Linked DNA regions of Homo sapiens: regions 1, 2, 4, 5, 6 and 7 are each linked to region 3. The links come from fine-mapping of genetic effects on gene expression. A gene starts in region 3. Each other region holds a variant in brackets. All regions are shown on one strand. Distances are from middle to middle.

What was found. PIP is the estimated chance that this variant, and not a neighbour inherited with it, causes the effect. A credible set is the group of variants that fine-mapping cannot tell apart.
Region 1: its variant is fine-mapped to the expression of SDCBP2-AS1 in whole blood (INTERVAL, PIP 0.92).
Region 2: its variant is the best candidate, but not a certain one, in a credible set for the expression of SDCBP2-AS1 in whole blood (Lepik 2017, PIP 0.50).
Region 4: its variant is the best candidate, but not a certain one, in a credible set for the expression of SDCBP2-AS1 in esophagus mucosa (GTEx, PIP 0.81).
Region 5: its variant is the best candidate, but not a certain one, in a credible set for the expression of SDCBP2-AS1 in whole blood (TOPMed, PIP 0.69).
Region 6: its variant is fine-mapped to the expression of SDCBP2-AS1 in caudate (GTEx, PIP 0.93).
Region 7: its variant is the best candidate, but not a certain one, in a credible set for the expression of SDCBP2-AS1 in whole blood (INTERVAL, PIP 0.61).

Annotation. Positions count from the first base shown.
Region 1 is chr20:1,357,005-1,361,071 of GRCh38, reverse strand. All of the region lies in intron 2 of FKBP1A-SDCBP2 (FKBP1A-SDCBP2 readthrough (NMD candidate)), which reads left to right. All of the region lies in intron 1 of SDCBP2-AS1 (SDCBP2 antisense RNA 1), which reads right to left. Among named protein-coding and RNA genes, the nearest start is that of SDCBP2, 30 kb to the right of the region's middle. The variant G/A (reference allele first, on the strand shown) is at 1,693.
Region 2 is chr20:1,382,015-1,386,081 of GRCh38, reverse strand. The region is part of intron 2 of FKBP1A (FKBP prolyl isomerase 1A); the gene reads left to right. The region is part of intron 2 of FKBP1A-SDCBP2 (FKBP1A-SDCBP2 readthrough (NMD candidate)); the gene reads left to right. Among named protein-coding and RNA genes, the nearest start is that of MIR6869, 8.9 kb to the left of the region's middle. The variant C/T (reference allele first, on the strand shown) is at 2,205.
Region 3 is chr20:1,322,941-1,327,007 of GRCh38, reverse strand. SDCBP2-AS1 (SDCBP2 antisense RNA 1) reads right to left here and starts at 1,665. Exons shown (of 3, transcript NR_040049.1): 1 at 1,479-1,665. All of the region lies in intron 1 of SDCBP2 (syndecan binding protein 2), which reads left to right. All of the region lies in intron 2 of FKBP1A-SDCBP2 (FKBP1A-SDCBP2 readthrough (NMD candidate)), which reads left to right. LOC124904856 (a long non-coding RNA gene) reads right to left here. Exons shown (of 2, transcript XR_007067487.1): 2 at 2,639-3,142. RefSeq lists enhancers at 1,089-1,383, 1,374-1,603.
Region 4 is chr20:724,039-728,105 of GRCh38, reverse strand. No RefSeq gene overlaps it. Among named protein-coding and RNA genes, the nearest start is that of SLC52A3, 42 kb to the left of the region's middle. The variant A/C (reference allele first, on the strand shown) is at 2,343.
Region 5 is chr20:1,376,215-1,380,281 of GRCh38, reverse strand. The region is part of intron 2 of FKBP1A (FKBP prolyl isomerase 1A); the gene reads left to right. All of the region lies in intron 2 of FKBP1A-SDCBP2 (FKBP1A-SDCBP2 readthrough (NMD candidate)), which reads left to right. SDCBP2-AS1 (SDCBP2 antisense RNA 1) reads right to left here. Exons shown (of 3, transcript NR_040049.1): 3 at 1,547-3,484. Among named protein-coding and RNA genes, the nearest start is that of MIR6869, 15 kb to the left of the region's middle. RefSeq lists an enhancer at 1,694-2,893. The variant G/A (reference allele first, on the strand shown) is at 2,175.
Region 6 is chr20:1,365,689-1,369,747 of GRCh38, reverse strand. It overlaps FKBP1A (FKBP prolyl isomerase 1A), which reads left to right. Exons shown (of 5, transcript NM_000801.5): 5 at 1-770. The region is part of intron 2 of FKBP1A-SDCBP2 (FKBP1A-SDCBP2 readthrough (NMD candidate)); the gene reads left to right. All of the region lies in intron 1 of SDCBP2-AS1 (SDCBP2 antisense RNA 1), which reads right to left. Among named protein-coding and RNA genes, the nearest start is that of MIR6869, 25 kb to the left of the region's middle. The variant A/C (reference allele first, on the strand shown) is at 1,966.
Region 7 is chr20:1,288,012-1,292,078 of GRCh38, reverse strand. The region is part of intron 2 of SNPH (syntaphilin); the gene reads right to left. Among named protein-coding and RNA genes, the nearest start is that of SNPH, 24 kb to the right of the region's middle. The variant C/T (reference allele first, on the strand shown) is at 1,938.

The sequences.
Region 1 (4,067 bases), 34 kb before region 3:
TGTTTTGGTTGAAATCTATGAAGAAATTACAACTAAGCACATTTTTAAGGACGCTTGTGTCTGAACAGATAGTAATACAGAAACCAACATAACGAGAAATACCTGGCATCTCTTTATCTGAGGACTTTGCTAAATGGGAAATATTTAGTCATCTTCTTGAAAAGAATTTATCCAAACTTGCATTGGTAGAAAACAAAACTGGCTTTGTTTCCCTGTATAAAAACCACTTAGCACTTCATTTGTATATTCAAATGTAGTTTGTGAAGAGAGCAATCAGAGAAATCATGTATCCAATTTGTAAATACAATTAACCAAGAGAATATACAGGTCAGATCGCCCTTCAACTGGTCTCACAATTGCCATCACAAACTGAGTCAGCTGGCCAAAGTGATGGGGAGACATTCTGAGAAATGTGTCATTAGGAGATTTCACCATTGTGTGAACATCATAGAGTATACTTACACAAATCTGTATAGTATAGCCTACCTACCACACACCTAGGCTATACGGTACAACCTGTAGCTCCTAGGCTACAAAACTATACAGCAGGTTTGTACAGTGACTGTTGAATACTACAGGCAATTGGAATACAGTGGTAAGGATTTGTGTATCTGAACAGATCTAAACATAGAAAAGGTCATGTGTCACTACATGACGTTATGCCAGTTGGCAATAGGAATTTTTGAGCTTCATTATGGTTTTATGGGACCACTGCTGTGTATGCAGCCCACCACTGATGAGAACATCATACGCAGTGCGTGACTGTACTTCGACCACCAGGGGTACAAGTGCATGGACTGGACAGAAGGAAAACCTCAGAGAACCTGAGGATGTGGATAAGACTGTTTAGTGAGGTTCTCAACTCATCACAAGCTACCAGGTATTCGGCATGGAGGGGTGGTGACAGTTATGCAGGACATTGACATATGATGATACAGTGGTCATTCTTACATAAAATGAAGAAGACTGTCCAGTAAATTCTATGAGTTTGCAGTAGATGGATCATCAAAGGATATGGGTAATCTTGTAGTAACAGGACTATGTTACTAGGAATTTCACTAGTCCTGTTACTAATTCATAGGCCATGGAGCAATATAAGACCAAGGTTACAAACCCCTAAAATTGTCTGGAAAGAGAATGACTTTTTTATGTACTTTGGTCTGAGCATGTGATTCATAAGTATATGACAGCAGATCAATTCAGATACATCCAGAAGAAGCCATCCTTTATTCTGAAATGTCCTAACCATACCTGAAATAAATACTAAGTGATGCACCAGAATTTTCCTCCCTGGGATCAATGAGCAGTAGCATTGAGAGCAGAAACGGCAGCCGTGGTAACAGGAGCTGCTGTGGTCAGTAGGCTCTCAGGGTCTGTCAGGCAAGAGCATAGGATAGTGACAATTCAAATGAAAGCAAAAACAAACATAAAAAGGAATGAACTACTGAAATGCCAACAATATGGATGAATCTCACAGATATTATAATAAGTAAAAGGAACCAGACTTTTTTTTTTTTTTGAGACGGAAGCTCACTCTGTCACCAGGCTGGAGCGCTGTGGCGCGATCTCGGCTCATTGCAACCTCCGACTCCCTGGTTCAAGCGATTCTCCTGCCTCAGCCTCCTGAGTAGCTGGGATTACAGGCATGTGCCACCATGCCCAGCTAATTTTTGTATTTTTAGTAGAGATGGA[G/A]TTTCACCATGTTGGCCAGGATGGTCTCGATCTCCTGACCTTGTGATCCACCCACCTTGGCCTCCAAAAGTGCTGGGATTACAGGCGTGAGCCACCGTGCCCGGCCCAGACTTTTACAAACATTACGTTCTATGTGATTTTCTTCATATGGAACTCTAGAAAAGACAAGTTCAACTTACACTGGCAGAAATCAGGCCAGGTCTGAGGCTCAGGATGGAGGAAACTGACTAGGAAGGAAGACAAAGGGAACCTTTTGGGGTAATGGGAGTGTTCTATATCTTGATTGTGGTTAGGGTTACATGGATATACACATTTGTCAATCTCATGGAAATGTATACTTTAAATGGGTACATTTTATTTCATGTAAATTACACCTCAAAAAGTTTATTTAAAAAATACATGGGGCTTCCATGTTCACACAAGATAAAGTAAGTGGACTCCACCCTATTCCTTCTGCTAATTACAACTAAAAACTAGACAAAATACATAAAGCAACTATCAGAAACCTCTAAAGGTGAAGTAAACTAGGCAGACTGGCAAGGAAACTTAAGTCTCAAGGGATGACCTGGCAGGGAGTTCCCAGAGGCTTTCGTAGTGTTCACGTATTTCAACCTGGGCACTAGAGGAAGGCACAATCTGAAATGACCAACAAGCACAGACAACAAAAGTCCTAAGGAAAATGCTTTCTCTAGTCAAAGGACCTAGAAGAGGACAGTAATGAAGGATGGCCTTTTTTTTTTTTTTTTTTTTTGAGATGGAGTCTTGCTCTGTCTCCCAGGCTGCAGTGCAATGGTGCGATCTCGGCTCACTGCAACCTCCGAGGATGACCCTTTTGACAATACTTGCTCTACTCCAGGTGAACACCATCAAAGAAACCACAGCCCTCCTCTCCCCAACAGGCTCTGCAGAGACTGGTGTGGAGTTCGGTGAACCATCCCTGCTGTGCACGAATGTGGGGGCAACACTCCCCTTCCTCACCAGTGATTCTGGAGACAAGTGGAGCTCTATTAATGAGCCCCATCCTGCACTAATGGGATAAGAGGTGACACCCCCTCCCTCCTCCTTCTTCCCATGGGATGCTATGGACACTCTAGGGTAGAGCCCTGTTGACTACCACCTGTCCTGCAGTAACAGAGGCAGCACCTACCCCCTCACAGAGAGTGTGGGCAGAATAACAGAGAGGAGGGAGCTGCGGAAAAAGCGTCTTTCAATTTGTGCACATCCCCAAGTGGCCTATGTGTGAAACTCATCAGAATTAACACAGCAAAAGCTTTAAGAACTGAGCTATGCTGTGGAATACCACTCGGGTTTCTGGGTATCCACTGGTCTCTGGGTAGCACACAGGCAGAGCAGACCAAGATAACGCTGAATTTGAAACCAAACTGACATTCAAACTCACAGACCACAGAAGTGAGTCATGATGTGCATTCTGAATTGAAGCAGGTTGAATGCATGCTAAAGTAGAAAATATAAAAAGGAATCAGAGTTTCATAATACCCAAAGTACTGATAATATTGAATATTACTTGTCATGTCAGAAAACAGAAAAAGTCAACCAGAATGAGAACAGGCAATCAACAGATGCCAATACCAAGATGGTACTGATGTTGGGATTGTCTGGCAAGGATTTTTAAAGCAGCTATCATTAAAAAACAAACAAAAACACTTTTAACAAGAAACTATGAACACTCAAAAAACAAAGGTTCAATAAATAAAAGATACAAAGAAACCCCAGCCGGGTGCGGTGGCTCATGCCTGTAATCCCAGCATTTTGGGAGCCCAAGGTGGGCGGATCACCTGAGGTCAGGAGTTTGAGACCAGCCTGACCAACATGGAGAAACCCCGTCTGTGCTAAAAATACAAAATTAGCTGGGCGTGGTGGCGTGCACCTGTAATCCCAGCTTCTTGGGAGGCTGAGGCAGGAGAATCGCTTAAACCCGGGAGGCGGAGGTTGTGGTGAGTCAAGATTGTGCCATTGCACTCCAGCCTGGACAACAAAGAGTGAAACTCCATCTTAAAAAAAGAAAAAAAAAGAAAAAGAAACCCCAAATGGAAGATTTATTTTATTTTAAATCATTTTTAAAAAAATAGAGACAGGGTCTCACTACATTGCCCAGGCTGCTCTCAAACTCTTGTGCTCAAGCAGTCTGCCTGCCTCAGCCTCCCAAAGCGCTGGGATTACAGGTGTGAGCCACTGTGCCCAGCCTATTTTATTTTTTATTTATTAACTTATTTCTTTTGAGACAGGGTTTGTCTCTGTCACCCAGGCTGGAGCGCTGTGGCGTGATCTCAGCTCACCTGCAAGCTCCACCTCTTGGGCTCAAGCGATCCTTCCACCTCAGCATCGTGAATAGCTGGGACTACAGGCACATGCCT
Region 2 (4,067 bases), 59 kb before region 3:
ACTGTCCTGGCTACCAAGAATTTAGGAGTGAAGAAGACACAGTTCCTGCCTTCATCTCACACTGTAGTGGAAAAGACATAATAAATATGATTAATAAGCAAGACTGTTGTGTATAAGCTAGTAAGTGTTAAGGAGGGAATAGGAAAAGGTTGAGGTTTTAGATAGATTGGCAAAGGCCTCAATGAGAAAGTGACATTTGAGCAAAGACTTGAAGGAGGTAAGGATGTAACCTATGTGACTGTTTGAGCAAGATCATTTTAGGCAGAGAGAACAGCAAATGCAAAGGCCCACGGGTGGAGGTATCCCTGGTGTGTATGTAGAACATAAGGAAACAATGTTCTGGGACTGGAAAAGTACAAGAGTAATCAGAGGTGAAGTCAGAGGGATGGTGGTAGGGGCGGAGGCTTGACACTTCTTAGAGGGTCTTGTAGGCCATTTTAAGAGTTTTATCTCCTGAGATGGGGGAGTCACAGGAGTTTTTCAGCCGAGGGGTAGTAGGGTCTGGCTGCTGTGTCAGGTTTAGACTGTAGGAGAGCAAGAGCAGAAGCAGGGAGACCAGGGAGGGAGTTGTAATAATAGTCTGTAACAGAGGTCCAGAACTCATGCCTTTAACCATTATACCCTATAGAAAATGCATATTTCTACCACTTCCAGCTAGCTATTGTTAAGTGGTATTTCTTTTGATTTTTTTGGAGATGGAGTCTCACTCTGTCGCCCAGGCTGGAGTGCCCTGGTGCAATCTCGGCTCACTGCAACCTCTGCCTCCCGGGTTCAAGCAGTTCTCCTGCCTCAGCCTCCCAAGTAGCTGGGACTACAGGCGCACGCCACCATGCCCGGCTGATTTTTTGTATTTTAGTAGATACAGGGTTTCACCATGTTGCCCAGGCTGGTCTCAAACTCCGAAGCTCAGGCAGTCCACCTGCCTCAGCCTCCCAAAGTGCTAGGATTACAGGCGTGAGCCACTGCACCCGGCCTAGTGGTATTTCTTTCTCCCCCTCCCCATGCGATATAATGTGGTAGTAACTCCTCTTATTTATACTGTGATTAAAGTGGAAAATGGAGAGACACACCCACAGGGCATGCATTCTGGTCTGTGTTCTTTTTATTGCCGTTGGATCCTGCATATTCTTCCCATCATGGGCCCTGCCTTTGAAAATACACTTTTGGTTATAGGATCTAAAGGGATTTAGCCAAAGGTTAGAAGCATTTCCATACTGCGTATGGGAAATGTGCTTGCACTGTTGGTGATCTCAGGAAAATGATAGTGAGAGTGAGCTGGTTCCCTCTTTGGGTTGGCACTTGGACCTTTGGTCATACCCCTCACTCATAAGGAGTTCTCAGAACCCCACTTCAGGGAGGTTGTGCTGGAATACAGCCACAGAGACCCAGAAATGGAATAATAAGAATGTAAGATTTGAATTTGTATCTTTTGCCTATCTAAATGTAGAATCCCTTTTTACCCATCATGATTGAGACAAGTGGGTAGTTGGTATGCTAACATAAAAGTGACATGGCTTCTGTAAACATTTGATTTCAAACTCTAACATAAATCATTTGCTAAAGGACTATGTCTTTATCTTTGAGGATGGCTCTGCTAGTGGAGTTTCCCATCATAGTTCTTGCAAAAACCAATTTGACCTTTTTTAAAGTAGAGCAAAGAGTATTGTGAGAACATTTAAAAACCAAACCTTTCCAGATTTTTAAGATTTCTTTCTCTAAATGTAGTCTCCCATATGATTATTCACTAGCAATAGTTTTTTAGTGACTTGCCTTTATTGAGTCTTTCCCAGGAGTCAGCTAGAACCGCTGTTTGTATTCACACTCATTTTATTGATTTACATACTATTTAATTACATTATATTTACACAGTAAATATAGCTACCATAAATGGATTTGGGGACAAACACAGCTAACCACTCCTCCCTTTGTGAACACAGAACTCATATGGGAATGAAGAAGTGATCATGAGCTAGAGACTAAAGCATGAGGGGAGTGCTCTTCACTATGCTGGGGTACGAAGGCTGTGAGTTTTATGAGTCTCCAAGTAAGGCAGCTGAGTAAAAGGTGGTTAAGAGAACTTCTGTGTCTAATAAGAAGAGGGAAAGCAAACAGCTAAACCATTAGACCTTGAGCCATACGCCCATCTGGGAATGTTCTGAGTGGCTTCAAATGCAAAGCTGCAGAAAAATACTGGCTCCCCCTAC[C/T]TCCACCCATTCAACCATTACACCTTTTTTTTTTTTTTTAAGAGACAGAGTCTCGTTCTGTTGCCCAGTCTGGAGTGTACTTGTGCGGTCATAGCTCACTGCAACCTCAAACCTCTGGGCTCAAGTGATCTCCCACTTGATCCACTCAAGTAGCTAGGACCATGTCTGGCTAAATTTTTTTTTTTTTTTTTTTAATTTTTTGCAGAAACAGGATTGGGGACATGAGTCTTGCTGTGTTGCCCAGGCTGGTTGCAAACTCATGCCAGTCTCAAACTCCTGGCCTCAAGTGATTCTCCTGCCTTGGCCTTCCAAAGCACTGGGATTACAGGCATGAGCCTCCTCCGCAGCTGGCCTCATTGTACTTTTTGTCATTAAGAAACTCACCTGCGTGTTGAAAGTAGAAATCCTTTTCCCTCTCCAAACTGTAAATGGCAAGGACTTTATTTTATTTTGAAGGTTTGGGGCTTAGGATATTCTGGTTTTTTGTTATGTTTGATTTTTGGTTTAGTTTAGTCATTTTTTTTTTTTTAATCTTAAAACTTCCCATATTTTGTCCCTGTAAAATGCTGCCTATAGGAAACACTCCTGCAAAGATTCATGAGCAACTATAAACTGCATTGTGAGTCATGAGCTTTCACTACAAGTAGTGAAGCCATAAGTCTGTAGAGGTGCCTTCTTCAGTCCTGTTACCCAGTAGAAGGTATATGGCACTCTGCCCTTCCCCAAAGCAGAGTGCCTTGGAAGTGACTCCATTTCTATTGGGTTATTAGTGAAATAGTATCCCAGTGGTCCTTGTGAATCTCCAGGTCCTGGTCTTGAGTCTTAACCACCGCTTCAGTGGCTTGAGCCAACCACCAGGAACACAGTCTGGGGATACTTTGCTGCCCAGGAGCTGCTGGCCAGGTCTCCCTCTGCTGATTCCTTGAAAAGCAACAGGAAAGAGCAGGCTGCTGTGGAGTAGACAGACTTGAGACTCTCTGCACCGTCTTGTTTTGTAAACCCTTTTGCTCCCTTTCCAAGGATTTCAGTTCAGGAGGAGACCCAGGCGAAGATGACGTCAACAGCCTCTGCATGCAGTCAGTCATAGCTTTGGCTTCTTTCATGGTCTTGTGCTTTTAACTGGAGCACATTTTCACATTTTTCTTACTGATTAGTAACTAAAGGTGCTTAAAGTAAAGTTTACCATTCTGGGATTACCCCTCATATTCTTGTTACCATATAGGGAAGAAGGTCTAAATATGAAGGCCTCATGCTTGTCCTTCTGGTTCTTAAAAATCATGCAAGTAAAGCAAATCCAAGAGTGCTCTTGAGTACCAGCACCATACGTGCCACCAGGACACAGAACGCAGGCCAGGTCTGTGAGCTTGGGCTGCATTCAGTCAGGAGAGCCAAGACTAAATACTTAAAATAAGAATATGGAGCTATTCCAGGCAGTTTGTTAGGCATGAGTTATAGGCTTGTACGGCCAGGAATGAAATTGGTCAGTTCTGCAATTAGAAGGCAATGCTTGTGATGTTTTATGCTGAGTGGCCTTTAGAGCTTAAAGACTGTCAGCTGTCTTGTCTGCACTGTAACCTCAGTTGCCTTCTCTGAGCAGGGCACGCTTTCTTTAGGAAATTATGGCACTAACTTGGCAGGTGGTTTCACTGTTCAAGGGCTCCAGCTCCTGGCACAAGTGATCTCCAGAGTTAAAATTGGAGCAGCTGCTGAGACTTGACTTGCTGCCTGCTTTACCTGTTCCCTCCCCAAAGAGAGGAAGCACTTTTCATTCATTGCCAGTGTGTATGTGGGAGCTAAACATATATAGCATTTTAGTAAATGCCACTGCCTACTCTTTTTCTTTTCCTTTTTTAAAAAAGTTAC
Region 3 (4,067 bases):
CATGGTTTCTCTCCTTTTCCAGGCCCAGGTTATTCTTCGAAAGACTTTCTACTTATTGACTGCAAACACAGACAGGCATGGGAAGAAAGACTGTATATTTAGGATATCAGGCTTTCTCTTCTCTCTGTGCCTGCTTTTCCACTCCTTTCAGAAATAGTAATGGGATGCCTGTTGTGTGCCAGGCACTGTGCTCAGCACTGGGGGTTAACAAATGAGTGACATTTCCTGACCAGTGAGGGAGATGAGCAAACAAACACAGCACAGTGGAAATCCAACCTAGGAAATGCAGAAGGCCTTGCTCATAGTAGGTGATTAACAAACACTTGTGGAATATATGATGAAGAGGCAAATACAAGAAATGCTGTCGTCTAGAGAAGGGAGGCTTGCCAATCTCCATGCGTACAGGTGGGGGAAAGCTTTAAATTGGAGGAAAAAGAGTTCACAACAAGGAAAAGAGAGAAGGCATGAATGACTCTTAAGACAGAGGGAATAGCACCTGCAAAAGCATGGAGGCATGAACTAGCAGGCTGACTTTTAGGACTCAACCTAAAGTAGTCTGGAATAAATGAACTTCATGATAAGTGTGGAGAAGAATGAGATGGTGAGAATGGAAACATTACCAGAAGTCAGGTCACAGAGATTTGAGGGCAAGAAGTAGGTATGGCTTCAGAAGGGAAAGGGAGGAGCTGAGGATAACTCCCAGATTTCTGACATAGCCCATGGGTGGATTCAGTGAGACCGCTGGGGAGGCGCGGCACAGCTGGGGAAAATCACGAGTCCAGTTTGGATAATCTGCGAGGTAAACGGGATCCAGAAGGCAACTGGACTCTCAGGCCTGGGCCTCCCTGTCCCTGGAATAGCACACTCTCTTCCCACTTGAACATCCATCCTACACGGCCCAGTCAGGGTCTTCTTCCTTCCTCCAGGAGACCTTCCTGATTGCCCTAGCCTTCCTCCTATACGCCACATCCAACTGCCTGAGTCCCTCATAACAGGCTTTCGGTCTGATTTTGCTGTGGGAATTGATTTGCCCGGCCAAGCCAAGAACCCTTCCCTAGGCAGCAGAAGCCCAGTCACTCAGTCACTGGTGGGTGGGACGCGGGGTGAATCTGCGTAGGGTGGGGCGGGGCATTTTTAGCTCAACACTGGGTCAGAAGTCACGGCCAGACAAGAAACGGGTGAGAAACGGGGGAGGAAGGGTGACGTCACAATTGGTAGGAAATACCTTGGGACTTGACGCTTTCGAAACCAAAGGGAGAGCAAAAGCAGCCGGGAGCGCGCGGGCCGACCTGGTTCTCCTCCCTTCCCACGGCTGCCTTAGTACAGAATCTTATAAGTCCTCCTCCTTCAGAGGCTACAAATGGTGTTCCGAGGCCAGGGGAGTTTAAAGCTCGATTTCACCCGCGCAGCCTCCAATCCGGTAAAGAGGGGCCGCGGAGCCCGACCAAGTCTTCCTATGCCTTACTCTGCTGCTTTACCTGATCTATTTTTGTGGATGCCGGCGCCAGCTACGGGCGCCCGGAGAAAGCACGAGGCCGGGTGGACTCTGGTAACGCAAGCGGCAAGGAGGCCGCCATGTTCCACTCTGCAGCCGCTAGGGATCGTGGGAGTCACCCCTAACCGCGCCCGGGCCTGGGTGGGCGAAACGCATGCGCTCTAGAAGTTGCTGAGTCGCTTGGCGGTGTTTCTGCGCAGGCGCCGTAGCCCATAGCAACCGCCGTAACCTGTAGCAACCGGAAGATGTCGCTTCCGGCTGGTTTGGGGCTAAGAAAGGGGTTATAGTCATTTCGAGATCATAGAACGATGTGACAGATAGGAAACTGAGGCTGGGTTGGAGGCAGGCCCTAGGGACCGTTGCGTTGGACCTCGCTCCTGTGGCGCGGTGGATGGAGTTTGTGGCTTGTGGCTCCTATTTCCCAAAGCAGGAAATTGAGACAGAGGGAAGGCACAGGTTCGTCCTGAGGCTGCAGCCCAGGTGATGGTTCCCCGGGTAAAAAATCAATATGATGCCCTTTGTTTATAAGGAGAAGGCAGGGACATGAAAGTAATTTCTAATAAAAGAATATGCATTTCACTTTGTAAAAGCTGAGGCTGGCTTACACCCGATCACGCTTGTACCCAACTTAGGAATCAGCTTAGGTTTACTAGAAGACAATATTCAGCTGAATTTTGCCAACAGTTTATATCTGACATCTTGAGTCAAAGGCTAAATATATTTATATAAAAGCGCGGAGTCACTGTGACAGCTACACATGTACACAGACGTGAGCATGCTGTTCGGGTGACTCACCCGTGGGGAGCAGGGTGGGCAGCGATTTTCCAGAATGGTGAGCAAAGTGTAACTCCCCACAACCAACCTGATATATGCATTTCCAGACAGTCTAGTGTGTACTAAAACTAGGGAAAAATTCATTGTGATTGTATGTACAACCAATTATAACGGATTTTTGGCTTACTTGAAAGTTTGGCAGGATATCTGAAAGTTGTGCGGGACAGGACCATTTGTTATGGTGACTGTAATGGACTGTCCCATCCATTACAGGAGTTTCATATCCCTGCCCCCCCCACCCCCGACAGGGATATGACTGTCCCCTCAGTCTCGTGACACCCAAAAATGCCCACATAAATTTCCAATCTGTTCCTTGGAAAACCACTGATTTATTCAGTCAAATAATTTTTGCTAGCATATGTGTGCTGGGCAGTGCCGTGGCGGGGAAGGATCGTGTGTGAACGGGACAGAGCTCCTGCCCTTATGAGTGAGGTCCAGTGTAAGAAAATACCCAGATATTAATCACATAATTTGATAAATAGCTTGGCAACAGGGGCAGTACAGGTCAGGGGTGGAATACATGGGAAGACCCAGCCAGGCAGCCTGGGTATCATGCAGTCTGGAAAAGCCAAGCAGAGAAGTAGCATCTGAACTGAGCCTCGAAGGAGCATCACACCAAGGAGGATGATGTGCACAGCAGAGGGACCAGCACGTCTGGCACACAGTGGACACTCAAATGTTTTGAATGATTGAACGAAACACAGCATGTTCGCTGGCAGGGAACCATTCCCCATTATATTGTGAGCTGCTACAAGGCAGGGGATACAGTATGCCTTTCCTATCCCCAGGTTTCACATCCATGGATCCAACCAACTGTAGACAGAAAATATTTAAAAATAAAAATTAAAAAAAACAACAAAAATTCAAATAAAAATAAAATATAACTTTGTTTAGCATTTACATTGCATTAGGTATTGTAAGTAATCTAGAGATGATTTAAAGTATACAGAAGAATGTGCATAAGTTATATGCAAATATTATGCCACTTTATGTAAGGGACATAAGCAGCTGTGGATGTTGGTATCCGAGGGATGGGGAGTGAGGGGCATTGTCCTGGAACCTACCCCAAGGAACGACTGTACCTGTTTTCTCACTTCCCCGCATCCCAGCACTAAGATGGGATCCAGAGAAGGTGGCAGTGGTGAAAGGATCTCAGACACAGAAAAAGGGTTATGTGATCTGGCCCGGGAGTGATTTCCAGGAAATGGATCTCTGACTCCCTGCTCTCCCAGGGGACAGCTGACAAAAATATAAGTGCTCTACTGGTTAAATGTTAGGAAAATCAGGGCAGGAGTGGCTGCTTATTTTCGCATCTGCTGTTCATGCGTGGTCCTGGTGGCAGGTCATGTTTTGGCAGATGATAGCTGCTCAGGACTGTCCCAAGATTAAAAATCTCATAGTGTGTGTACACAGTGGGGAAGGCTATAAGCAAAGGGGTCTCTTCCCCCAGGTGGTCTAAAGGAAGTCAGAGCCAGACTCCCTCCCCTCCCAGGAAATTCCTGTCCTGTTGGGATGGTCATTTCTACCCCAAAGGCCAGGCTAGGGCAGGGTCTGGAACTGGCTGCCTCCAGGAACCAAGCAGGCAACGTAAATCAGTGAAGGGCTGATGGGTACTTGCGGAAACAGGAAAGCACGTACAGCCCCATTTGCGAGGTAGGCTGTGACTCAGCCGGGTGAGTGTTGCCATGCACTATTCCAGCTCTTGCCTTGCCAAATGTTTATATTTTTTTCAATCCAA
Region 4 (4,067 bases), 600 kb after region 3:
CCGGCCCACGCGGCGGGGGTGTGTCCCGGAGGCGGCGGTGGAGTTGTGTTCCCGTTGAGGGAGTAACAACAGCGGGGGAAGCCCGAGTACGGAAGGGAACCAGTGGAAAAGCCCCGCACGCAAGCACCAGTCCGTTCCCAGGCCCCCGGAGGGCCTTATGGAAATATAATATCCCGCCGGGCGCGGTGGCTCCCGCCTGTAATCCCAGCACTTTGGGAGGTCGAGGCGGGCGGATCACCTGAGGTCGGGAGATCGAGACCAGCCTGGCCAACACGGAGAAACCCCGTCTCTACTAAAAATTAAAAAAAAAAAAAAAAAATTTAGCCAGGCGTGGTGGCGCACGCCTGTAATCCCAGCTACTCGGGAGGCTGAGGCAGGAGAATCGCTTGAAGCCGGGAGGCGGAGGTTGCGGTGAGCCGAGATCGCGCCATTGCACTCCAGTCTGGGCAACAAGAGCGAAACTCCGTCTCTCCCTCTCTCTCTCTCTCTCGCTCTCTCTCTCTCTCTATATATATATTATATATATTAGATATTATATATATTAGATATTATATATATTAGATATTATATATATTAGATATTATATATATTAGATATATATAGATATTCTATCCCATTCTATTATGTGTGTGTTTGTGTGTGTGTATTAACAGGCGACAGATAACACAGGAAAACAAGTTGGACGTAACCAATTTAAACAATGCAGTGGGCTTCGGTTTTTGAATTTCTTTTACAAGATTGTTTCCGCTTCACCCTCACTCCCCATGGCTGTCAGTTCAGGGGGTATTTCCCCAGAGAGTTTTCTCTGCATGCACACTCATAAATGTGTCTGCACATACACACGTATTAAGCTGGATAGAATCTCGCGCCACTAGCTACGGGTCGCTTTATTTTACCTGACAAATAATGTAGGGATCTTTTCATGGCGTGGTTGCTGAGGAAAGAGGCTGGGCTACCATAGACCACACGTTTTAGCTCCCACCCGGCCCCTTCAGCCTGGGCGTGCCCTGCCATCAAGCTCGTGTGCCTGTGCACCACCCAAGTTCATCTGTGGGTAGAGGCTCTGTCCTTGAGTCCTTGTGTGAATGGGTGGGGTGGGGTCTGCGTGTCCCTGGGCTCCTGGGAACCTGTGAGGCCTGTGAACAGCCTTTCGTCAGAGAGAAGTGGAATGATAATAACTGTAAAGAAAAAATATCCAAAACTTGGAAATAAGACAAAAAGGGTGTCTGTGTGCCCTTTCAATATCAAGCGAAGGCAGTGTCCGATGAGCCTGGGTCACCTGATCCTAAGCAAAGTTACCTGGTAACTTGTAAAAAGTGCACGAGTTGCAAATGATTTCTGACCTGTAGAAGAAATAACGCTAAAGCTTATGGTTTTGGTGCCCTGTAAGACATTAACCTATGTCGTAGCTAACTTTGCCATTTTATCCTCCTTTGAGTCAGCTTTGCCATCCTACCGGTTCCATCCTTAATGAGTTAAATAACACTTTGACATGTGCTCACTATACATTTGTATAAGATCCATGTTTTCAACTTTCTGAAAATAATTTTTGACCCAGTTACCCTTTCTCAAAGGCTCACTCGGTGCCAGGCACCATGCTGATGATGGCTTCCCATGGATGAAGAGGCTCAGAGGTGGGCTCTGGGGTGAGGCAGATCTGGGTACAAGTTCTCCTTTTGCCACTCACCGGCTATTAGACCCCATGCAAGACTTAAGCACCTACTGTGGACTGCATCCATTCACATTCTTATCCCTCATTCAATTCAAATTGCACAATAACACTGCACGATGAGGTCTGTTTTCACATTTTTCCACTTTGTGCATGTCTCTGCACACATCCCTTACCTCCCTGAGCCTCAGGGTCTCCGGCTGTAAGATGGGGTTGGTAACAGCTGCCTCCCAGCATTGTGTGAAGATGTAGTACAATGCTTGCAAAAGCAATCTGGTCAGCAGTACGAGGCTCGGGGAGGTGGAGTCATGTTCCCAAACCTCCAGAGCTGGTCCCAGCTCTTCTGCCTCCAAAGCCTGTGCGCTGGCTCCTCCTACTTCAGTCAATCAAGACTTCATTTCTTTTTTTTTTTTTTTTTTTTTTTTTGAGATGGACTTTCGCTCTTGTTGCCCAGGCTGGAGTGCAATGGCACGATCTCGGCTCACCACAACCTCCGCCTCCCAGGTTCAAGTGATTCTCCTGCCTCAGCCTCCCTGGTAGCTGGGATTACAGGCATGCGCCACCACGCCTGGCTAATTTTTTGTTTTTAGTAGAAACAGGGTTTCTCCATAGTGGTCAGGCTGATCTCGAACTCCCGACCTCAGGTTATCCGCCTGCCTCAGCCTCCCAAAGT[A/C]CTGGGATTACAGGCATGAGCCACTGCACCTGGCCTCAAGCCTCCATTTCTACAGAGGGATAACAAAACCTCTGGGAGCTGTTACTGGTTGATAGCAAACTCTGCCTGGCAGAGGGGTCAGCTGTTGTGGCAGCTGCAGACAGTTAGTTCTGTGGTTGTGTGAAGGGCTCAGATGCACGTCACATATCACGGTCATCTGTGAGTTACCTTTTTTGTTCTTTCTTTTTAAGGCTGGCACCTGAAAAGAGATTTTTTTCCCCACTCTCAACAAGGGGAGCATTTGTGTTCTGAGCTCCAGGCTTTGGCTGGGGGGTCCCTCGGCCTCCCAAAGTGCTGGGATTACAGGCGTGAGCCACCACACCTGGCTCTATGTACTTTATTTTGTGTGGTTTATACCTTAATAAAAAGGCAGAAAGAGAGGGAGGGAGGGAAGGAAGGAAGGAAAGAAAAGTGGGTACAGTGATCCTTGCCTGGCCTGGCCTCCAGGACAAAGTGAAGAGGCTGGTACCCAGGCCTCTCTACAAATAGTGGGCAGAATGGCACCAAGATATAGTGTTGACAGCAGACAGAAGAGAGAGAGGCTGGTGTCGGGCCTGCCTGTCTTTCTTTAGCCCCCATCCTAGGCGTCTCCCAATGGGACATTCCCTCCATAGTGGAAGGCAGATAGTACTACCTGATGGAAGACAGAAAGTGGGACTTTGGAATCACACCTACTGGCTGTGTGACCTTGGCCATGTTGCTCGCCTTCGCTGGGCCTCAGGCTCCTCATCTGGAAAATGGGAACAGTACTCTCAAAGAACTTCAGTTGACTGGGCATGGTGTCTCACGCCTGTAATCCCAGCACTTTGGGAGGCCAAGGCAGGCAGATCACCTGAGGTCAGGAGTTTGAGACCAGCCTGGCCAACATGGCAAAATGCCATCTCTACTAAAAATACAAAAATTAGCCGGGCATGGTGGCACGTGCCTGTAATCCCAGCTACTCAGGAGGCTGAGGCAGGAGAATGGCTTGAACCGGGGAGGCAGAGGTTTCAGTGAGCCGAGATTGCGCCACTGCACTCCAGCCTGGGCAACAGAGTGAGAGTCTGTCTCAAAAAAAAAAAAAAGAAGAAGTGCAGACAGGCTTGAGACACTGGCTGAAGTGCCCTCAGCACAGAGGGTTTGCTTTGGCCAGTGTTCCACAAATGCAGCTCTTACTGGCCTCAACCCCAAGTGTGAGGGAGTGCCAGCCTTGCTGTCACTGGGCTTATGGACAGGTGGGAGGTGATGTTGGAGTCATGAGTTCCAGCCCTGATTTTTTTCCACTTACTATCTGTGTGACCGTGGGCCTGTCACTCTTCAGTAAAATGCCTTCCTTCCTAAGTTGTCATTGTATTCATTCATTCATTCATTCAACTTTGGGCAATTTCCTATGCTTTTCTGTGTTTCAGTTTGCTCATCTCTAAAATGGGGTTAACAGCCCCCACTGCAAGGGTTGCTGTGAAGATGAACGGAATTTGCACTTAGAACAGTGCCTAGCACAGCAAGGACTCAGAGGCACTGTCTGGTATCACTATTTGTGCCCATCTGTGGATGAGCTCCTGCTGTGTGGTGGGCACCAAGGGTGCCTGTGGGGCTGGCAGTCCAGCTGAGGGCTGGGCATACCCTTCATGCAGGGTCACGCAGGTAGATGACAAGGAAGCCCCAGAGCACTCTGCCTTCCAAGGCTACCACAGTAACTGGGCCAGA
Region 5 (4,067 bases), 53 kb before region 3:
GTCCTATGGACTCTAGGTGCCTTGAGCTCCACTCCAGGTCCCTCTCCCTGGAAACTCCCAAGGATATAGGGCTGCCCTTGTTTCCCATGTCTCAGGATTTATTGTTCTTCATTACAGATGTCTGGTGTCCTACAAACCATCGTTGTAGCTATTTTGTCTAGGTGGTTTTTAGGTTTTAGTGGACTTTTTGTAGGGAGGAAGGGGTTGGTTGGTTGGTTGTTGGTTGTTTCATGAACAAATCTGATCCTTGTCCTCCACCGTGACCAGAAATGGAAGTTCTCACTATCTGTTTTGACATTACAGACTGAACAGCATAATTCCTACACATGCACACTCATTCCAGCTTAACAAACACTGCTTCCACCTTCTCCCCCAGGCTGACAACTTAGGGCCATAGATAAGTGGCCTGTTCCTCCCCACTGGGGAAGCCCTCCTTCTCCTTGTCCTGTAGCTTGTGCCAGTTGTGTGACACCCACTTAATCACATACCACCCCACCCATTTCGGGGGATTATTGTTTAGCTTTCGGACTCGATTATGGGAAATCCTCTCCTTGGACTCAAGGAACCCCAACATCACTGCCACCACCCAACCCTGCCCTGCGAAGATTTCTCCTTAGAAAGTAGATGAGATTGACAGTTGGTGACTGTGGTCTGAAATTCTGGAGCAAGTCTCATGCCCCTTTCCCAGGGACAACAGAGCATCCAAAATAGCATAGGAAAATTAAGATCCTAGGCAAAGGTCCTGTTTAAAGCTCCTTTACTTAGAAATCCTGCTTCCTGGCTTTTATGGTTTTAAGATACTAGGGAGAGGTTTGCCCCTCAGTGTCCAAGATAGGCTCAGGAGAGCTGGGGTTAGACAGGCATCCTCACATAGAGCCACTGAAGAACATACACATCTCCATGCTGGCTCAGCAGCAGCAGCAGCAGCAGATTCAGGCTGTGTCCTGCCTAGTGCTCCTAGCCTGGTACCAGTCAGATAGATAGTTGAAGTATCTCACCTCAGGCAAAGCAACATTGATACATTGATGCATGTAGTGTCTGGAGGTTGCTTGGCATTGCATTTGATCAGGAATAAAAAGGAAGTTTAGGGAGTCTGTCTCAGTACCCTGTGGCTTTCACTGCAATCAAAATACGATCTTGCACAGGTCAGAGCCGTGTTCAAGTTTGGCAAGAAATAAGGCTAATTTTTTATAGGTATACCGTACTTTCCAAATTGTGGGTTATGAACCATTAATGCATCATGAAATAAATGTAGTGGGTCACAATCAGCATTCTTTTTAAAAATGAGAAGTATATGCCATGTAGTAACTTACATGTAAATTTTGTTTATACACAGACAAAATGTGGGTGTGTACTGGGTCCTGACATGAGACACTGTTCCCATTGTCGCGGATCAGGGATAGTTCTTTGTGGTTTTAGTTGTTGAGTTCTGTTTCTTTGTTATTCCTTTCGTGGCAGCACTACATTGTAGCGTGCTCACTAAGTGTCAGAGGTTTACCTCACGCCAGTTGTGTTCATTTGGCTGCAGGTAACTGAAGACCCAACCTAAGGCAAAGCAGACTTCTTTATTTTTGTAAGACTTCATTAAGAGCAGTTTCAGATTCTCAGCAAAATTGAGAGGCATGTACAGAGATTTCCCATATATCCCCTGGTCCCACACATGCATAGCCTCCTGTTATCAACACCCCCCACTAGAATGGTACGTGTGTTGCAATTGACGAACCTGCATTGACACATCATGATCACCCAAAGTCCATAGTTTACATTAGGGTTCACTCTTGGTGGTGTACATTCTGTGCATTTGGACAAGTGTATAATGGCATGTATCCATTATATATAGTATCATACAGAACATTTTCACTGCCCTAAAAATTCTCTGTGCTCCATCTGTTCTTCCCTCCCTCTACCCCTGACTCCTGGCAATCACTGATCTGTTGACTGTCATCCTAGATTTACCTTCAAAGCACACTTTTAATCACCTCAGAACATGAGTCTTGAGGGAAGTGGTTTGGGGCTGATTCAGAGCACTGGAATGACCACCTTGTGGTACGCCTGGCCTTCTGATAGTCACAGGGTGACTGCCATGCTCCAGACATCTTATCCTCACACAGCATTCAACAGGGAGGGCAGGAACTTTCTTCCCGAGTCTTTGTTTTTCTTTTTACTAATGAGGT[G/A]GGACTTTCCTGGAAGATCCCAGTAGACTTCACAGCAGGTAAAGTAGTGCCCAAACTGACCCGTATAGGGGAAGGGCTTGGATTGATTCGAGTTCATCTGCTGGGCCAGGCTGTTGTTGCTGTCGTTGCTCCTGGGAAGTTGTTGTTTAATTAGGAAGGTGAGGGTGCCACACAGCCTTGCTTCCAGGTGGCCCCTCTGGGCATGTTTTTCTTAAAATAACAGACCAGAGAGAAGCTCTTTCTGGTTTTCAGTCTCCTTTGTGGCTCACAGGCCCTGCCACTCCGTGGTTCTGACCTTGGGTGGGTTACTGAGCCTTGGAGTCGGTTTCCTTATTTCTGTTACAAGCAGTCTCACGAGGGTGGATGGAAAGGCTCCCTGCCTGGCCAGGGAATGGAGAATCATAGCTGTTCATTGCCTGCTCTCACCCTTACCTCTGAGGTTGGTTGGGTTGGGTTCCATGTAAGAAGTGCAGCTTGAAGTGGGCTAAAGGCAGTGTGTTTATTGGGTATTGTGGAGCCTGGAGACCTGTTTTTCTCCCAGGTACTCATTTATAGAGAACTGTTCAAGTCCTGCCATTAGTCATTTCTTTCATCAGGTGGTGACTGCATTCTGGTAAACGAATGAGCTAAATGCATACCCCAGCTCACCAGTTCTGGGGCACCAGTTCCTTGGAGCAGGTACCGGTCCCCACCCTCCTGTCTACCTCTTAGTCCTCAGCTCCCAGCTCCAGGCTTCAGGCAGCATTGGTACCCATTCTGCCCCAGGACATCCGTCTCTACTCCTGCTCTATTAAGATACCACCACCCAACCCCCACCCGTTTCTTACTTTGTTAAAGTCCACATAGTCCAGTAGCTGTGATAACACTGCCAATTCATCTCTGCCTCCCCATCCTACTTACAAATGTTGACACTGTTTTTTAGGTTGGGATTTTTGTCAGGATTTTCTTTTTTTCCTAAACTCTTACACAACAGAACTGTAATGTTTTTATGGATCTTCTGAGTAATGAATGCTTAGAACCATGGTGAGTGCCCACCCTCAGTCTTCCAGTAAAATCAGTTTTGTGTCCATTATATGTTAACCACTGGCTGACCCTCCAATCTGGGATCCTAATTAGAGAATTCTCAGGAACTCAGTGTCAGCTATCACAATAGGCTGGCAGTGGCTTCCTGAGAAAGCAATGCCGATGGTGTTTTTGAAAAGGAAGTTGCAGATATCTATTGCAGATGTCTGTTCCTCTTTTCTCATAGCGTCTCTGGAGTTCCCCTTTTATTGGAAGGCGCCGTCGTGGCTTGTCCAGCTTCTGGGAAACTGGAATAATAGAAAGAGCATGGTATTTGGGTTTATAATTTATAACGTAGTTTTACTATTTTACTAAATTATAAATTTACTATTTTTATAATAGTAAATTTTACTATTTACTATTTTCACTTCTCCCTGTCTGCCTCAGTTTCTTCATCTGTGAAATGGGGATAGTGCTGTGGAGAAAGAATTGCATTCGTTCATGTGTGGAAAGCACCTAGCCCATTTAGAGTAACTCAGAGTGGAACCACTGGCCACAGAGTTGCTAGCAGTTGGCTGGGTTTACTGAGTTAATTCTTGAAGGGCCACCACTGCAACCTCCTTAGTATTCCTGTTCTCTTCAGTCATCTCTGTTACAAAGTATTAGCTGTGCAAAAATGAGCATGGGTTGTTTTGTGGGGCAGCATTGGATAAAATAAGTGGGATGAATGCTGCACAAATTCTTTCTTTCATTTCTCTATTTCAGCCTAGGTTGGTTTTTACTTTCCCAGGAAAATTATGACAACTCAGGAACCAGCCTACAAGGGGCCAGCTTTACGCCCCAGGTTCCCTGTTGGTGTGAGACACTTGGCACTAGAATGAGGGTGAAAGC
Region 6 (4,059 bases), 43 kb before region 3:
ATAGGAATTGGTGTTGGGGGGGGGGTTTGCAAGAATATTTTATTTTAATTTTTTGGATGAAATTTTTATCTATTATATATTAAACATTCTTGCTGCTGCGCTGCAAAGCCATAGCAGATTTGAGGCGCTGTTGAGGACTGAATTACTCTCCAAGTTGAGAGATGTCTTTGGGTTAAATTAAAAGCCCTACCTAAAACTGAGGTGGGGATGGGGAGAGCCTTTGCCTCCACCATTCCCACCCACCCTCCCCTTAAACCCTCTGCCTTTGAAAGTAGATCATGTTCACTGCAATGCTGGACACTACAGGTATCTGTCCCTGGGCCAGCAGGGACCTCTGAAGCCTTCTTTGTGGCCTTTTTTTTTTTTCATCCTGTGGTTTTTCTAATGGACTTTCAGGAATTTTGTAATCTCATAACTTTCCAAGCTCCACCACTTCCTAAATCTTAAGAACTTTAATTGACAGTTTCAATTGAAGGTGCTGTTTGTAGACTTAACACCCAGTGAAAGCCCAGCCATCATGACAAATCCTTGAATGTTCTCTTAAGAAAATGATGCTGGTCATCGCAGCTTCAGCATCTCCTGTTTTTTGATGCTTGGCTCCCTCTGCTGATCTCAGTTTCCTGGCTTTTCCTCCCTCAGCCCCTTCTCACCCCTTTGCTGTCCTGTGTAGTGATTTGGTGAGAAATCGTTGCTGCACCCTTCCCCCAGCACCATTTATGAGTCTCAAGTTTTATTATTGCAATAAAAGTGCTTTATGCCGGCTTTTCTCAGCTCTGTGTCATGGTGGTTATTTTCAGGTGCCTCCCCTGCCATTTGGTGCAGGGGGATGGGGTTGGGCAGGGTGAAGGAGGGTGGCAGTGGGGATGCAGTTTCAAGATTGTGTCTTGGCAGAAGAATGCAGCAGTGAACATCCTTCCTCACTGGCTATTAACGGGTTGGGGGTCAGAGGAGGGGGAATGTGGGGTAGGTTTGCATCAAAGGAGCTGCCTGAAAGGGCAAGCTGGGATAGTCAGGGAACATCCCCTCCCCTGTTACCAAATGTTTATTAAATATGTGTTCTGGGTAGAGCACTATGCTCGGGGTTCTTGGGTTACAGAAAAGTGGGAGATACAACACATTTTTGAGAAGTGAGTCACAGTCCACTTGGAGATGTGCTACAAGCAACTGCAAGCAAATTAATGAGATACGAAGAGAAGACTCTGATTTTAAATTGGTATTCCTCAGTAACATTTAATGTAGAAAGACAGTCCTGTGGAGAGGCTGCGTGGTTGCAGTAGCTTCTCTGGACCCTGCCCTGGGTGCCAGGAACACTTTGCCCTTACTGAGAGTTCTAGAGACCGTCAAGAATGCTCCCACACCTTTCTAGACACCTTCCAAAATTGCCCAGGTTGAGAACCATTGATTTTAAAAAGGAAATTATTCAACAGCTTGCTTAATGGCTTTCTAAGTTCTTTTTGTTAATTTATGGTTTTTAGAGTGCCAGAGTCATATTCCAGGGTCACATCTTACCATCCCCAACATTTTTATAAAAATTCTCAAACAACACAAAGATGATTAAAATGAACACCTGTATACCCACCACCTAGATTCTATCATAAACATGTTACTGTATCTATATATCACCTGTCTATCCATCTGTCCATCAAACTATCCATTATGTCTCTTCAGAGTAAATGGCAGACATCACTACAATTCCCCCAGTACGTGTCATTGACTAGACTAGAGAGTAGTGTTTGTTTACACTTTTGTGCCCCTGCCAGGATAAAGAACATCACCATACCAGAAAATTCCAATATGGCCTTCCCCAGTCAACCCCACCCCGCCCTTGGAGGTGGTAATTGTAATTCTTTTCCACCATAGGCTAGTGTTGCCTGTTCTGACATTTAATTTAAATGGAGTCCCACACTATGTCCTTTCGCACAGTCAGTATTGTGCCTTCACTCAGGCATATGGGAAGCTGTTCTC[A/C]CTGAACTTGGCATTTCAGGGAAATCCTCTGGATTGGGGATGGGAGTCCTCAGAGATGTCCACATCCTAATCCCCAGGACCTGTGAATGTGTCACCTTACATGGCAAAAGGGACTCTGCAGATGTGGTTAGGTAAGGACCCTGAGATAGGAGGATTATCTGTATTTACCTGGGCGGATGCAGTGTAAGCACATGGATCCATATAAGCATCAGTGAAGGCGACGTGAGGGTGGACAGACTTTTGAGGATGCTAAGCTATTGGCTTTGAAGATGGAGGAAGGAGAGCAACAAGCCAAGGAATGCTGGCAGCCTCTAGACGCTGGAAAGGGCAAGGAAACGGATTTTCCCCTAGGACTCCTGAAAGGAACACAGCCCCACCCATACCTTAATTTTAGCCCTGTGATGCCCACTTTGGACTTCTGACCTCCAGAACTGCAGAATTTATTACTAAGGTGATAAGTTAGTGTTGCTTTAAACCATTTGTTAACAGCAACAATAGGAAACTAATACAGGGCCAACTTTTTTTTTTTTTCCCGAGATGGAGTCTCACTCTGTATCCCAGGCTGGAGTGCGGTAGCGTGATCTCGGCTTACTGCAACCTCCGCCTCCCAGGTTCAAGTGATTCTCCTGCCTCAGCCTCCCTGGTAGCTGGGACTACAGGCACGTGCCACCACGCCTGGCTAATTTTTTGTATTTTAAGTAGAGATGAGGTTTCACCGTGTTAGCAGGATGGTCTCGATCTCCTGACCTCGTGATCCGCCTGCCTTGGCCTCCCAAAGTGCTGGGATTACAGGCGTGAGCCACCATGCCCGCCAATATTATTTTTAATGTATAACAGAATAATGTCAGGGTTTTGTTTTTTTTTTTTAATCCAGGATCCTACCACCCTAACAAACAAATCCAACTTCAATTTTTTTTCTCCTTCCTATTTCTTGCCCTAAGCACTTACAACGTTTAGCTTTAATCACAACGTAGTACAAATTTTGCATTTCTGCTTTTTTCCCCACTTGCCATTTTTATCAGGAGTATTTGTCCCTGTTGCCATATGGTTTTTATAACTGTTTTAAGAGGGCTGCTAAGTAAATTATACCACATGAACATTAAATTTACTTAACTACCTTGTTAAAGGATAATTTTTTTAGAAGTTAAAATTATGACTCATACAAATATAAAAGTAACATGTTAAAGATGATTGTATTTAACTTGTTAATTATTGAGAGAACCAGTAGGACACTTTAATTGGCTCAAAGGAGAATCCAAAGAACAAATAATTATAAGCCTAGCAGGAATGCTGAAATGAGTTTGCTTCGTAGTTACAAAACTGGCAAAATTGGCTGATACCTGCAGAACAATAATCAGTTATATTCCATTGGTCACAATTTGCATTTCTATGAACAAGAATCATCTGCATTATCAGTTTCCCTTAATTTACGTAATTGTAAAGTAGCTCAAAGGCAGTGAAATGAAAGGGAATCAACTCAGAAAGGTGGGCTAGATTAGACAGAACACTCAGTAATTGGAGGCAGGGGTGGGGGCAGTGGGCAAGACCTATTTCAAAGTCCTTCACAGTGTTTCCTGATAGCCTGTATTTGGATAGCTGGGTTATGTCCAGTTATTTGCTTTTATTAAATGTCAATACATCTTTGAACATTTTTTTCTTTCCTAAATACCTAGGTTCTATAAGATATAATACTGTTAATAGTAGGGGATCCCTAGGGTCAAAGGAGATTTTGACTTTTGATTAGTGTTGCCAAGTTGACCAGAGTTGTATAAGCCTTTTCCCATGCCAAAAACAAAAACACCATCCATGTCCAATGGCTATCACTTCCATAGTGTCCTAAAAAAAATCTTTAAAAACCTTCCTTTCTCCAGTGGTCCTCTGCTATGTCGTGAATGTGTCTCCCAAAGTTCCATGTGTTGGAAACTTGATCCCCAGTGCAGTGGGTGTGGGGAGGTAGGACCTAATGGGAAATGGTTGGGTCATGGGGGCTCTGCTCTCATGAGTGGATTAATGCTGTTATTATGGGAGTGGGTTCCTCATAAAAAAATGAGTTCAGCCACCTATTGGCCTCCAGCCCTCTCTCTCTTTCTGCCC
Region 7 (4,067 bases), 35 kb after region 3:
AACAAGCACATTGAATAGACCAAAGAGTCAGATTAGATGGTCTCTAAGGTGCTCTGGATCTAACATTCTCTAATTCTAGAGCTGTCAATGAAATTATGGGCTTCTAATTGATGCTTCTTTCTCCTTCATTACTAGGACTTTCGGGTCTCAGTTTCCACATATGTAAAATTAGGAAGCTCCATTCTTCAAAGAGACATGATAGCATTTTCCCCAATCAACAGTCATGGGGGAAAAACCAGGTGCTTGGGTTAATCTAATATTCCAGCTAAGCAAAAGTCCCTGTATGTACTATAATTTATCTTCTTTCAAAGAATTAGCCATTGATACAAGAAGAAAGCTATCCTAAAATCCGAGGGAACAGAACAATCTGTGTCTGATGACTCAAACCACTGACAGCTGTGGAAAGCAGAGCATTGCAATCAACAGAGCAGAACTTGGGAGGGATCCTCTCTTTGCCAAGGTAACACTAGAACGCAGAACATTCCACCCATCAGACAGCAGAGTGCCTGGTGCTCCTAGAATGCTAATGCAGAGAGGTGGGAATAGAAGACAGGCCTGGGAGTGTTCCAGCAGCCACACTCTAGATCTCAGAAGATTAGCACTACCAGGGCTATTCACAGCTGAGGAGTTCAGTAAACCCTGCACTGGCTATGGCCTCATCAGCCACTATGTGCCTCTGCTCCTCCTTTGTCAACAAAACCTAGGATCTTCCTTCCAGGACTTGCTGGCATTTCTCCAGCTTGCTTCCTGTTTCCCACACAAGCCACCCTCAAAGCTGGGACCACACATGAGGCGCCATCCGACTTCTTCTCACTGTTGTGGCAACCCCAACACAGCGGCAAGGCAGACCCACAACTTGGCCAAATGCTGTGAGAAGCTTCCCCAGGCAACCAGCATAGGTTGAGGGCTGAGGCAGCTGCTACACAGGATGTGTCTCCAGTGATTAGACTCAGATTCCAGAGCTGAAGGGCATCAAGCCTAGGTCTTCAAACCACCCAAGAGGACTTGCCTCTGCACCTACTGGGAGGGGTGGCTTGGGCCTCCTCCCCCATTTCACCTGAAGAGGCTCCTCTCGTATGTGTTTTACATATGGAAGGTGTGAAGTAAGACTACTTTTTAAAAAGGATTTTTCAGGTTAAAAATCTATGGAATACTTATTTTCCACAATGAGATATTGTTTCACATTCACTAGGATGGCTAGCATAAAAAAGATGGACAATAACAAGCGTTGTCAAGGATGTGGAGAAGTTGGAACTCTCATGTATTGCTGGTGGGGATGTAAAATGACGCTGCTGCTATGGAAAACAGTTTGGTGGTTCCTCGAAAAGTTAAACATAGAATTGCCATAAGAACCAGCAATTCCACTGCTAGGTATATACCCCAAAGAATGGAAAATAGATGCTCAAACAAAAACTTGTATAAGAAGTGTACTTCACAGTAGCACTATTCTTAATAGCTAAGAGGTGGAAATAACCCAAATGTCCACCAATAGAAGAATGGATAAACAAAATGTGATGCGTCTATGCAATGGAATATTTAGCTATAAAAGGAATGAAGTATTACTGATCCATGCTACAACACAGATGAACCTTGACAACATTATGCTAAATGAAAGAAGCCAGATACGAAAGGCCGCATATTGCATGATTCCATTTATATGAAATATCCAGCACAGGCAAATGCACACAGACAGAAAACACACTGGAAGGGAAGAAGGAACAGGGAATGACTGGTAATGGGAATGGAGTTTCTTTTTTGGGAAGATAAAAAACGTTTTAGAAGTAGCTAGTGGTGATGGTTATATAATTTTGTGAGTATCCTAAAATCCCTGAATTGTACATTTTAAAAACTTAATTTTTTTTTTTTTGAGACAGAGTCTCACTGTGTCGCCCAGGCTAGAGTGCAGTGGCACGATCTCAGCTCACTGCAACCTCCGC[C/T]TCCCGGGTTCAAGTGATTCTCATGACTCACCCTATCGAGTAGCTGGGATTACAGGCACGCACAACCACACCTGGCTAATTTTTGTATATTTTAGTAGAGATGGGGTTTCTCCATATTGGCCAGGTTGGTCTTGAACCCCTGGCCTCAAGCAATCCACCCACCTTGGCCTCCCTGCTCCCAAAGTGCTGGGATTACAGGTGTGAGCCACTGCATCTGGCTATTAAAAGGATAAATTTTATGGAATGTAAATTATATCTCAATAAAAAACAAATTTTTAAAAATACATGTGATATATATTTAATTTTTTTTTAGAGCCAGGGTCTTACTCTGTCACCTAGGCTTGGAGTGCAGTGACAAAATCATAGCTCACTGCAGCCTCAAACTCCTGAGCTCATGCGATCCTTCTGCCTCAGCCTTTCCAGTAGCCACCTCACCTGGCTAATCTATTTTTTACTTTTTTTAAAGGTGGGGTCTCACTATGTTGCTCTTGGTGGTCTCAATCTCCTGGCCTCAAGCCATCCACCAGCGTCACCTCCTGAGTTGCTGGGATTACAGGTGTGAGCCACCATGCCCCTGACTCCATTGTGTGTGTGTGTGTGTGTGTGTGTGTGTGTGTGTGTGTGTGTGTATTTAAATGAACCGTTGCATTAATAAAAAGACAGGCATGGTCCAGAAAGGGGTAGAGACTCTTCCAGAATGGCTCAGCAAGTTGCAGCAGAAGGGGAGCAAGAGCCAGTGCCCCCCCTCTACCTGACTTCAGGTAGCTGGGCCCAGGATGCTTCCCTAGACTTTGGGTCAGCCTGGAGGAGACTGGTAGCTGAGGCTGCCCCTAAAGCTCTTGCATATTCACAACTTCGTTGAATCCTCACACAAATTCCCCATAGAGGGAGGCCAGGTAGAGACTAGTCCATCTGATCTATGGGAAACCTGAAGCCTCAGAGGTTACAAGAGTCACCAAGGGCTGGACCCTGGATTTCCAGGTCATGGGCACCTGCATTTCTACTGCATCATGAAGGTCTCATAATACAGTAGACCTGGGACACTTATCATTCTGCTGCATAAAAGAAAAAACCTACTTTTCCATGAGACTCTAAGATACCACAATGGAGATGAGCAGGTATATACCTGCATTTTGGGCTGGTCATACTTCCATAAAAGCAGGGCATCACAGACATAAGAGGTAAGCATACTACAGAGAGTCGTTTAAAAAGAAATTCTTGGCCAGACACGGTGGCTCACACCTGTAATCCCAGCACTTTGGGAGGCCGAGGTGGGCGGATCACCTGAGGTCAGGATTTCAAGACCAGCCTGGCCAACATGGCAAAAACCTGTCTCTATTAAAAATAGAAAAATTAGCTGGACGAGGTGGTGGGTGCCTGTAATCTCAGTTACTCGGGATGCTGAGACAGGAGAATATCTTGAGCCTGGGAGGCAGAGGTTGTAGTCAGCCGAGATCACGACATTGCACTCCAGCCTGGGCGACAGAGTGGAGACTCCATCTCAAAAAAAAAAAGAAAAAAAGAAAAAGAAATTCCTCATGTGCCTTCTCCCTAACTAGTGACTTTCCCTGTTCCTCTAAGAATCAGCCTCGCAGGCAAAGGAGAAGCCCTTTCCATGAGGAGCACTGCTCTTTCCTCTTCCAACAACTGCTGCGTCCCACCCAGCAGCCCAGCTGCTGTGCAAGCCCACCACTGAGAGACCCTCAGCTCCTCTGAGCCATATCACATCGTCCATCTTGGTGACCTTGGGTCTTTGACCTCTGTTCGTCTCAGCTGTCTCATGCATTCACTCAGGAAGGCGCCACCTTCCTGGCCCTGCTGTCTCTTTGGGATCCAACCAAGGTAATGAATGGAGGGATGGGGGTAGTTCTTGGGAAATTAGAGGACTGAACATTTCTTGCTATCACTATTACCTGTCGAAGGAGATCTCTCTTTTTCCCTTCTTCAGAAATAATTCTTGCTTTATCACCTCAGCGGACATCAGCAGGCCCAGGCATGAGTGACTCTGAAATGACTGGCAAACTCTGCTAGGCCAAGTGACCTGGGCTGGCTTTCCAGGGCAATGTCTGGCAGGCCTCCCGTCTGGGTAGGGAGTAGTAGGGGGAACACTGGTTCCCATGCTTCCACCAT